2 separate regions of the Homo sapiens genome follow, and region 1 is linked to region 2. The links come from fine-mapping of genetic effects on gene expression. A gene starts in region 2. The other region holds a variant in brackets. All regions are shown on one strand. Distances are between the middles of the regions.

Region 1 (5,214 bases), 170 kb before region 2:
TACAGCACATTTCACCGCCCTTCCCCTTTCCTGGTCTCACTTTCTGCTCTCTCAATGTACTTCTTGAGATTACCTCTCAATAAACAAATTGCTCCTAAGTCCTTGTCTCAGGACCTGATTTGGGGGAAACCCAAACTAAGACAGTCCCTTTGTTCTTTGTTTCTGTGGAACATCTTGTATTTCCTTGATAGCCCAAATCATGCCCCACCAGCTTCCCACACACTCTGGCACCCTATCTCTTTACACCTGCTTTATTTTCCTCCACAGTAATTATCATTCGTTGACATATTTCCTTGATCTATCGTCTCTCTGTCTCTATTACATATCTCTCTCTGCCAGCTATCATCTCCATCTGTCTTTCCAGTCAGCCAGCCAGCCATCTCTATCATCTTTCATATCATATCTATCATCTGTCTGTTTATCTATCTATCCACCTATCTATCTATCTATCTATCTATCTATCTATCCATCTATCTGTCTGTCCACCTGTCTGTCTGTCTATCTATCTATCCATCTGGCCATTGCCTGAATCTACCTATTTGCAACTTCCTCAAGAGCACAATCTTGCCCCTTTGTTCACTGTTGCATCTCTAGAATCTCCATCAGTTTCTGGCGCATAACAAATAAACACCTGTTGGCCGAGCACGGTGGCTCACACCTGTAATCCCAGCACTTTGGGAGGCCGAGGCGGGCAGATCACGAGGTCAGGAGATCGAGACCATCCTGGCTAACATGGTGAAACCCCCGTCTCTACTAAAAATACAAAAAAAAAAATTAGCCGGGCCTAGTGGCGGGCGCCTGTAGTCCCAGCTACTCAGGAGGCTGAGGCAGGAGAATGGCGTGAACCCGGGAGGCGGAGTTTGCAGTGAGCCGAGATCGTGCCACTGCAGTCCAGCCTCGGCGATAGAGCTAGACTCTGTCTCAAAAAATAAATAAATAAATAAATGTTGAGTGGGTGAATAATCAAGGAAACCTGTGTCTAGGAAGCCCCACCCTAGGAAAGAAGCTGCACACATGGCAAAAGACACTGGGACACGTGCATTTTACCCTTGGCATTGGCTGGGCCTGGTGGGAGATGCAGGTGTCTTCACAGAGTTCTCAGTACTGGAGGCTGAGGATAAAGAACAGAGGTTCAGTGCCCTACGCCTGACTCTTCCCAGCTGAGTACCTGGTACCTGCATGGTTCTGACTTCATAAAGCAGAGGACGCTCAAGGAGGCAGCTGGACAGATGTTCTAGGACCATCGTCTTCCAATAGGCAGACCAAAGCCTGACTGGAGTAACAGAGCATCCCCCCAACCCCATCCCAATGGATGCCCTGCTCTGGGGCCGGGTGGGCATTTTATAAACCCAGACCAGAGGATGACCACCTTCTCCCATGTTGGTGTCCCCCATCTCGCTGAAAATCAACATGCCGAAGGTTAGGCTTAGGTTCCAAAACCCCCATCCTTGCCAGTGTATCCACACACCACCACTACCCTCCAGCACACACTCTCTGTCTCACACACACTCTCACACCTGCACACACACTCTCACATGTGCACTCACGCAACTTCACAAATACACTCACACGCCCACTCACTCACACACGCCTGCTCTCACACACACTCTCACATGCACACTCACACACCTGCTCTCACACACACACCTGCTCTCACACACACTCACACACACCTGCTCTCACACACACCCACACACCAGCTCTTGCACACACTCACACACTTGCTCTCACACACACTCACACACTCACACACCTGCTCTCACACACACTCCCACACTCACTCACACCTGCTCTCACACACTCACACTCACACACACTTGCTCCCTCACACACTCACACACACTCACACACACCTGCTCTCTCACACATTCACACACACCTGCTTTCACACACACCTTCACACCTGCACTCACTCTCACATGTTTGCACACAACTCACAGTCACACACTGAAACACACTTACACTGTCCCACTCATTCAAACACACATGTATTTCCCACACACATTCACACAACATACTCTGTCCTGAGTCTCTGATGCACCACACTAGGCCCAGTTCTTCTCTCCTGGGCCAAAATTTCTGTGGCTGCTCTGCAGAGATGGCCTCAGATGCCTGAGAAAAGAGGCTCTTACCCGATGAGACCAGCACTTGAACCTGGAAGAAGGGATCGGGCAGGAAACCAGACAGGCCATCTTCCTGCAGTATTGTTGCAATCCCACATCGGTATTTTCCTGCATCGTCTGCCGTGAGGTTCTCCAAGGTCACGGTGAAGGTGAGGTCTCCAGGATGGTCCGTGATGATCACTTGGTCACTCCTCACCACTCCCTCAGACCCTCCGGTCTCCACCATTTCATGCCAAATTGGCAAGCATGGTTGTCTGCACCAGTATTTGTTAAACGTCTTGTATTTCTCTTCATACCGACACTGAACACTCAGGGATTCCCCCACGGCGCCCATCACGGTGCTGGGGCCACTCACAGTCAGACAGCCTGGAAAACACAAGTCCGTTTCCCCGTCTTCACCTGGAAGAGTCTGGACCAGTGGAACCTTGAGTGTCAGGTCCTCTGCACGCCCAGTGTTGCCTGAGGCTGGAGGAGGGAGGAGTCGGGAACCAGGGAGCTATGGGCTATTTGCAGGGGGAGACCCAAGGAGATGCCCGGTGTGGGATCCTGAGACTCCAGAGGCCATGCCAGCCTGGGTGTGCTCAGCCATCTTATAATATCAGGGGGAGAGGCTTGACCTCGGTGGCCTCAGACAGGTTCTGGGTCCCCCAGAAGTGTCAGTCCTGAGAAGAAACACCTGTCCTCATCGAACACCAATGATTGAATGAAGCCACTAAGTACACTCTGAATAAATGGATGGCTGGAGAGATAGATGGATGGATGGATGGATGGATGGATGGATGGATGGACGGATGGATGAAATAGGAAAGGAAATAATATTGAGAACCAGGAAAAACCAGAAGCAGCCCAGTATGGAGGGCAAGGAGGAAGCCTGGGGCTTCTGGTTCTGCCCCTTTCCCAAATCATCTGTGGGCCTCATACTTGCCATCCC[T/G]GCCCATATAGATGAGGCCTCCTGCTCCCAGGTCTGGGTCACAGAGAATATGGGGGCTGCCCATGGGGATATCAAGGGGCCATGTAGAAAGGAGTTGTTCTTGTGATTCAAGGACATTTACGCCTGGAATTTTCCCCCGGGACAGAATCCTGCAGCAACACTCGCCATTGCCTAACATCTGCAGGGCTCCGCTCCACAGGGACACCCATCAGAGCTTCCTTCCCACCCCCAATTCTCTGCAGCACCCACCCGCCTTGGCATGTCCTGGGCCTCTTCTCCAGGTCCTCTGCCCCCTCCAATATTTCGACATTACTCTCCCTCTTCGAGTCCCCTCTCTCATTCCTCCACCCACTCTGCAGGCTCCGGGTCCAAATGATTGGGACCCAGCCCCATCAACTCTCTGCTTCCTGCCTCGGGGGCCTCACCAGTCCTAAACAGCTGCTGTCTCATCTGCTCTTGACAGGGAGGTGGTTAACTCAGGACAAAACGGCTATTGAGAAATGGTTTTGGCAAAATACCAAGCTCCTGAAAAGGAATTGTGGATGTAATCTGTCTACCTATCAACTATCTATCTATCTATCTATCTATCTATCTATCTATCTATCTACTATCTATCCATCCATCCATCTTTCATCTACCCACCCATCCATCTAGGTAATATATTGCCATCCACTGATGGAGAGGCTTTGCTATATTTTTATTGTGAATTAAAAGAAAAATCTGGCCAGGTGTGGTGGCTCATGCCGATAATCCCAGCACTTTGGGAGGCCGAGGCAGGTGGATCACCTGAGGTCAGGAGTTTGAGACCAGCCTAACCAACACGATGAAACCCTGTCCCTATCGAAAATACAAAAAATTAGCCGGGCGTGGTGGTGGGTGCCTGTAATCCAGCTACTCAGGAGGCTGAGGGAGGAGAATCACTTGAACCCAGGAGGTGGAGGTTGCAGTGAGCCGAGATCGCACCACTGCACTCCAGCCTGGGCGACAGAGTGAGACTCTGTCTCAAAAAAAAAACAGGAAAACTTTATCTTTTGCATCTTCATTTTCTTATCTCACGTTTTCTCACTTTATTTCCCAGAAAGCAGGCTCGAGTGGCCCACTGACCTATTCTGCATTAGAAAGCTGTCTGCCTCTCTGAAGCAGTGATTCTCACCTGGGGGGCAGGGGGGCGGGGAGGGGGCGGGGGGGCAGGGGGGCGGGCGGGAGAACATTTGGTAATGACTACAGATATTTTTGGTTGTCCCAACTTAGGGTGGGGAATTGCTGCTGGCATCTGGTGGGTAGAGGCCAGGGATGCTTCTAAACATCTTACAATGCACAGGACAGCCCCCAACACACAGAATAACGCAGCCCCAAATGTCCACAGTGTTGAGGTCCACGAGCTTTCCCAGGGAGCTAACTGCCTGCCAGGCACAGGCTTAGGAGCAAGGAAGGGGTGGGCACACCCAGTCCTCTCCTGAAATCGCTGCTGCTCTCAGCTCAGGCTCTGGGGGCGCTGTTAGCCTGCTCTTTCAGGTCCTTAAACTTCTCTCTTAATGATTTGGGGCTAATTCCACAAGGAGCAAAAACATTGTGGGGCACACACTGAATCCCACCACAGAGCCTCCCTCTCCTTGGATATTCAGTCCAGACCCTGACTCTGAGCCAACATGGGCAGCCTCCTCCACCTCCACCCCCACCATCTTTTACGGAGCTTCCCGCCTACCCAGCCTTGCAAAGAAACTGACTTTCTCCCTCCACCATCATTTACGGAAACTCTCGGACCAGGGCTGACCACAGGTTCCCAGCTGTCTCACCCTTCTGGGGGCCCATTAAGTAGCAGCCCTGGGGCCAGCCCAGACCTGTGGGGACACCCAGGGTTCCCACGTGGGGATGCAGCATATGCCTCCAGATATGTAAGTGAAGCTTTACAAGGAGGCGCAGCAGACATTGACATTGAATTAGAGAAGGAGCAATGATCTTGGAAATAAAAGTATTTAGGTTTGGACCTTGACTGTGCCTTTTATAAACTGTTTAATCTAAATTATTTGCACCTCTAAGAGCGAGCTTCGGTCTCTTGTTTTCATCAGGATTGCAATAAGAATTAAATGAGATAGTGGGAAACAAGATATGTATTACAGTGATTAGCCTAGTAAGTACTGGTTTTCTGTCCCCTATTCC
Region 2 (5,214 bases):
GGAAAGAAGGAAGGAAGGGAGGGAGGGAGGAAGGAAGGAAGGGAGGGAGGAAGGGAGGAGAGGGGAGGGGAGGGAAGGGGAGAGAAAAGACCGCATACCAGGCCAGGTGCGGTGGCTCACGCTTGTAATCCCAGCAATTTGGAAGGCCAAGGCAGGCGTATCGCCTGAGGTCAGCAGTTCCAAACCAGCCTGTCCAACATGGTGAAGTTCTCTACTAAGAATACAAAAATTAGCCAGGCGTGGTGGCGTGCACCTGTAGTCCCAGCTGCTCCAGAGGCTGAGGCAGGAGAATTGCTTGAACCTGGGAGGCAGAGGCTGCAATGCGCCAAGATCCCGCCACTGCACTCCAGCCTGGGCGACAGAGTGAGACTCCGTCTCCGGGAGCCCACGGCATTGAGCAAACCTCGGCATTATTTGCAGCAAGAGCCTCTGGCATCCAAATAGCAACCAACACCACGCCTCTGTAGTGTGCTGCGCAGCCTCCACACTCCAGTCTGAGGCTCCCTGTTTGAGTCCCGCCCTATGCCCAGCTGAGGTTATAGCACGCTCACCTCCAGAAGAGGTAACCCAAGCTCTTTACTCTACTGGAGATCACCTCTGTCCCCACTCTGGGCGCTTCTCCCAGCTGACAGAAAATACCTCCAGCTGATGTCAGAAAATACAGGGCTGGAGGCTGGCGTACAAAGTCAGTCCCCACAGGCCTATGGTGGCCCATAAGCCACGTCTACCCCTGCTCCTCACCTCCACACCTAAGTTAAGAATTGCAGGCCGGGCGCAGTGGCTCACGCCTGTAATCCCAGCACTTTGGGAGGCTGAGGTGGGCGGACCGCCTGAGGTCAGGAATTTGAGACCAGCTTGGCCAACATGGCAAAACCCCGTCTCTACTAAAAATACAAAAAGAAAAAATAGCCGGGCCTGATGTCGCGCACCTGTAATCCCAGCTACTCCGGGAGACTGAGGCGGGAGTATAGCTTGAACCCGGGAAGCAAAGGTTGCAGTGAGGCGAGATCGCACCACTGCACTCCAGGCTGGGCGACAGAGTGAGACTCTGTCTGAAAAAAAAAAAAAGTGCAGGTACCCCTCTCCAGCTCTCCCCTCCCTACACATCCCTCAAACCGTCCCGCTGTAATGCACCCGCCCTGTTCCTTGGTAACTTGAAGCTGCTTATAGAATGTGGAGATGGGGGTAATTGAAAGGTCGGCCCAGGCCACAGAGCCCCTGAGCTCTGCTACCGGCAACCCCAGCTGCACTCCCCACTCTCTGTCACCAGGAGCTGCCGGGTGCCTGGGATATCCTGGCAGCTCTGCTCAAAATGATCTACGACTTCATGAATTTATTTGGCTCCTCCTCGGGGCCAGGGTGAGTGTCATGGGTTAATAAGGCCGGCCCCGCCTTCAGGAGCGGTCCACTGGGAGATGTGTGCTGCGCAGCCCTCTTGCGAAAGCTCTCCCCTGGTGGGACATTCTGGGCACAACCAACAGGCCGGGGGAAATGAGAGGTGATCCATACTAAAGGGTCAAAGTCCCCGCACCAGGCAGAGGCCCCAAAACACCGCAGCGTACATGTGCTGCAAGGCGAGTACGGGTTGGTAAACAAAACTATATTCAGATGAGCTCGGGCCGGGTGACTTAACAGATGAGGAAGTGTCTCGGGGCCATCGGCGGAGGCGCAGCCCAGGGGTCCCCAGCTCCCCGCCTCGCCACCTGGGGACAGCCCACGGCCCGGGGCTCGGGCGCCGCCTGCTGTCGCGGTGCGCAGCGACTACGGGAACTCTTCCGCAGCAGACGGGGTCCCCGCGGCCCGCTCCCCCAGGGGCAAGCAAGCGACCACAGGGGACCGGTCCCGGGGCTGGATGTGGCTCATGTCCGAAGCGCACGGAGCCGAGCCGGTGTTGCTCAGGGAGGCTGCCCGCCCCTTCACGCAGACCCTGCGGCTCTGCGTGCCCTCAGGGAACAGCAAGGTCCGAGCCGGTGTCGTCGAGGGGGCGACGGGACGGAGGGAGGAGCCTGAGGGGTCCCGGTCGAGGGAGGGGAGGAGTGGGCGGGGCGGGGGTGGGGCCGTTCCTGCGCTCTCCTTCGCCTGCGGGCCGGCACTGCTCACCTCTCGTCCAGGGACATGACGGGCACGCCAGGCGCCGTTGCCACCCGGGATGGCGAGGCCCCCGAGCGCTCCCCGCCCTGCAGTCCGAGCTACGACCTCACGGGCAAGGTGGGTGGGCCTCTTCCGTGAGACCCCCGCCCTCCTCGGCGCTAGCCCCTTCCTGGCTGCGTCTGGGTTGGACTCAGCCCTTCCCCCAGGCAGCTGCGTCTCCCAGAGGAGGGAGGGAGAGAGGGTCAGGACACAGCCTCTGGGGCCGTCCCAAGCTCTAGGTGTCTCTGCTGGCTTGGTGGGGGCGGGTCGCGGAAGATCGCAAAAACTGAGTGATCCCCCCGCCGGCCCCAACTCAGTTCTCTTCTGCCACACTCTGGCAAATATGAGCCCCCGGGAGCCCATGCTTCTTGGTGAGGGTTAAGCGCGCAACTCTCGGGGCTCAGGCTGGGAAGGGCTGGGAGATGGGGACCGAACGGAGACTCGGAGAGGACGTCCCCTGCTGGCAGAGGAACTGGCGTTAATGCCATTTTCCGAGCTAAGCTCTTAGTTGAGATCTGACATCCAGGTTTAAGGCCTGATGTCCCCCAGCTGCTCCCCTCCCATTCCACCCGCTGGAGGCACTGCCTCCCACCTTCCTCCCTGCAGTCGGAAGCCGCTCCTCCCAGAAGGATGTTGCCAGCCGGCCTGCAGGTCACTTGGGAATTTTTCGAACCTGAGAAAGATTTCAGTGGTTGGTCTTTCGCATCCCGCACTTGAGAGAGCTCCAGGGCTGCTCTCTGGGGCTTGCTCCCTCTACAGGGGTGTCCTGTATGGAAACAGGTAGGGACAGCAGTGGACTGGTCTGTCGCCTTCCATCTGTGTCCTTGGAGTGAGCGGGTACCAGAAACTGAAAGAACTGCTGAGGGAGCCTAGAGCTTCCACTCTTCCTCTGCAGGGTTGGGGATGGAGTGAGGGCTGTCCTGGATTCCGCTGCATGGCCTTGAAGGAGACCTGCCTCTCTCTGGGCCTCGGTTTCCTCCCCGACACCAGGGCTCACCCTTGCTGGGAGCCTCAGCCTCCACCCCAGTGTTTCGGGGGAAGCCACCCTGCAAGTCATCCGCCCAGAGCCGTTGAGATAGGCGTCCTGTGTGGGCTTGTGGCAGGAAATGGGCCCCTGCACCCTCGGAGAGGAGGAGCTGCTGTTGGCCAGGCCCCAGGCTGAGGGGGACTGCCTGACCTTGTTGCCCTGCAAACCAGCTGGGTTGTTTGCCTAGGAGGTGGCCAGGCTAGGCAGCTGTTTGTGTTTGGTGGAATCACCGAGCTGGGTGGGTAGCTGGCATCGTTTGCTCAAGGCAGCTGTGATCTGTAAAGTACACAAAGACTGGCCCTCCCTCCCTCCTTCCTGCTCCAGGGCTGGGACCCAGGAGCCAGGGAGGAGTGCAGGCTCCAGAAAGCTCCTATCCCCCACCCCTTCATCTGTTCCCTGGCCAAGCGGCATTGGCCGGAGAGTTGGTCCCCAGCCTCCCCGGGCCTGCCCCAGGGGAGTGAGTCCAGGACCCTCTGAGAAAGCCTGGCAGGAGCTCCTTGGACCAGACTAGGGGTGATGTGGCCCACAGGCAGACAGTTCCCACCCTGGGCCACTCTTCCCTGGGTCTTAGGTGATTCACCACGATGATGGGCCCTAGCCATTAACAGACTCTAGAAATACCTCAAAGACATTATCCCTCCTCCTTCTACCCACTATGGAAACCATGCCACAGAAAGGTTAAGGAATCTTCCTAAAGTCACACAGTAGGCCATTTACAAATCAAGACCCATCCTTCATACCCCTTCTGCTCAGCCACCCCTGCCTCTCCACCAGAGTTAACTAATGCCAGTACCCCATGCCCACAACAGGAATGCCTTTGGGCTCCACTGTCAATTTCAGAGCCTCAAAAATAATTCAAACCTAGTCCCTGCTTAACCCATTAAGCCACCTAACCAGCAGCTGGGAAATTCCAGCATTGGATCTAGACCCCTGTTATCCAAGATTGGAGAACAGTGGGACAAAGTGCTCCTCTCCACCATTCCTGCGTGTCCCTGGGGAAGATGAGCAGAGCAGAGCCAGACAGTAAAGGAGAGGGCCACGCCCCCTCCACAGGTTACCTCCTTGGTACTCCTGCCCGCACTACCCACAGCAACCCCGGGATGCCGATCTGCAGCCACATGTCCCATGTGGGAGGTTTCTGCTGAAAGAACTTCCAACTACACATCTCCCCACTTCAGTATAAATTTCAACCTTCCCTAATTCATGCAACCTTTTTTTTTTTTTTTTTTTTTTGAGACAGAGTGTCGCTCTGTCACCGAGGCTGGAGTTCAGTGATGCAATCTCGGCTCACTGCAACCTCTACCTCCTGGGTTCAAGCTATTCTCCTGTCTCCGCCTCCCAAGTAACTGGGACTACAGGCGTGTGCCACCACTCCTGGCTAGTTTTTTGTATTTTTAGTAGAGATGGGGTTTCACCTTGTTGGTCAGGCTGGTCTCAAACTCCCAACCTCAGGTGATCCGTCCACCTTGGGCACCCAAAATGCTAGGATTACACACATGAGCTACTGCACCCGGCCTCATGCAACCTTTTAATAAACATAAAATGTCATTAGAAACTTCCAGTCAGGCGCGGTGGCTCACGCCCGTAATCCCAGCACTTTGGGAGGCTGAGGCGGGCGGATCACCTGAGGTCGGGAGTTCAAGACCAGCCTGGCCAACATGGAGAAACCCCGTCTCTACTAAAAATAAAAAATTAGCCAGGCGAGGTGGTGCATGCCTATAATCCCAGCTACTCAGGAGGCTGAGGCAGGAGAATCATTTAAACCTGGGAGGTGGAGGTTGTGGTGAGCCAAGATCTCGCCATTGCACTCCAGCCTGGGCAACAAGAGCAAAACTCCATCTCAAAAAAAAAAAGAAAGAAAGAAAGAAAGAAACTTCCAAATAAATGTTGTGACACAAAAAAAAAAACCCAAACAATATTCATTATAGAGTATGCAAATGACCATGCCCCACCCCCAGCAGATTCTGATAGACTCCCTTGGGTGGGAATCCTTGTCCAATATATTGACACTTCCCTTTCCTGTCAGTATAGCCCAGCCCATGCGTGTACTCACGAGC

What was found. PIP is the estimated chance that this variant, and not a neighbour inherited with it, causes the effect.
Region 1: its variant is fine-mapped to the expression of RAB37 in whole blood (INTERVAL, PIP 0.97).

What each region holds. Positions count from the first base shown.
Region 1 is chr17:74,561,787-74,567,000 of GRCh38, forward strand. It overlaps CD300H (CD300H molecule (gene/pseudogene)), which reads right to left. Exons shown (of 4, transcript NM_001405511.1): 2 at 2,133-2,489; 3 at 1,048-1,111. The coding sequence starts at 2,457. Among named protein-coding and RNA genes, the nearest start is that of CD300H, 3.1 kb to the right of the region's middle. The variant T/G (reference allele first, on the strand shown) is at 3,055.
Region 2 is chr17:74,735,158-74,740,371 of GRCh38, forward strand. RAB37 (RAB37, member RAS oncogene family) reads left to right here and starts at 2,099. Exons shown (of 9, transcript NM_001006638.3): 1 at 2,099-2,208. The coding sequence starts at 2,116. LOC124904057 (a long non-coding RNA gene) reads right to left here and starts at 2,182. Exons shown (of 3, transcript XR_007065905.1): 1 at 2,101-2,182. RefSeq lists enhancers at 1,285-1,344, 1,731-2,454, 2,725-2,814, 3,179-3,901 and silencers at 1,585-1,754, 1,805-1,854, 2,055-2,254.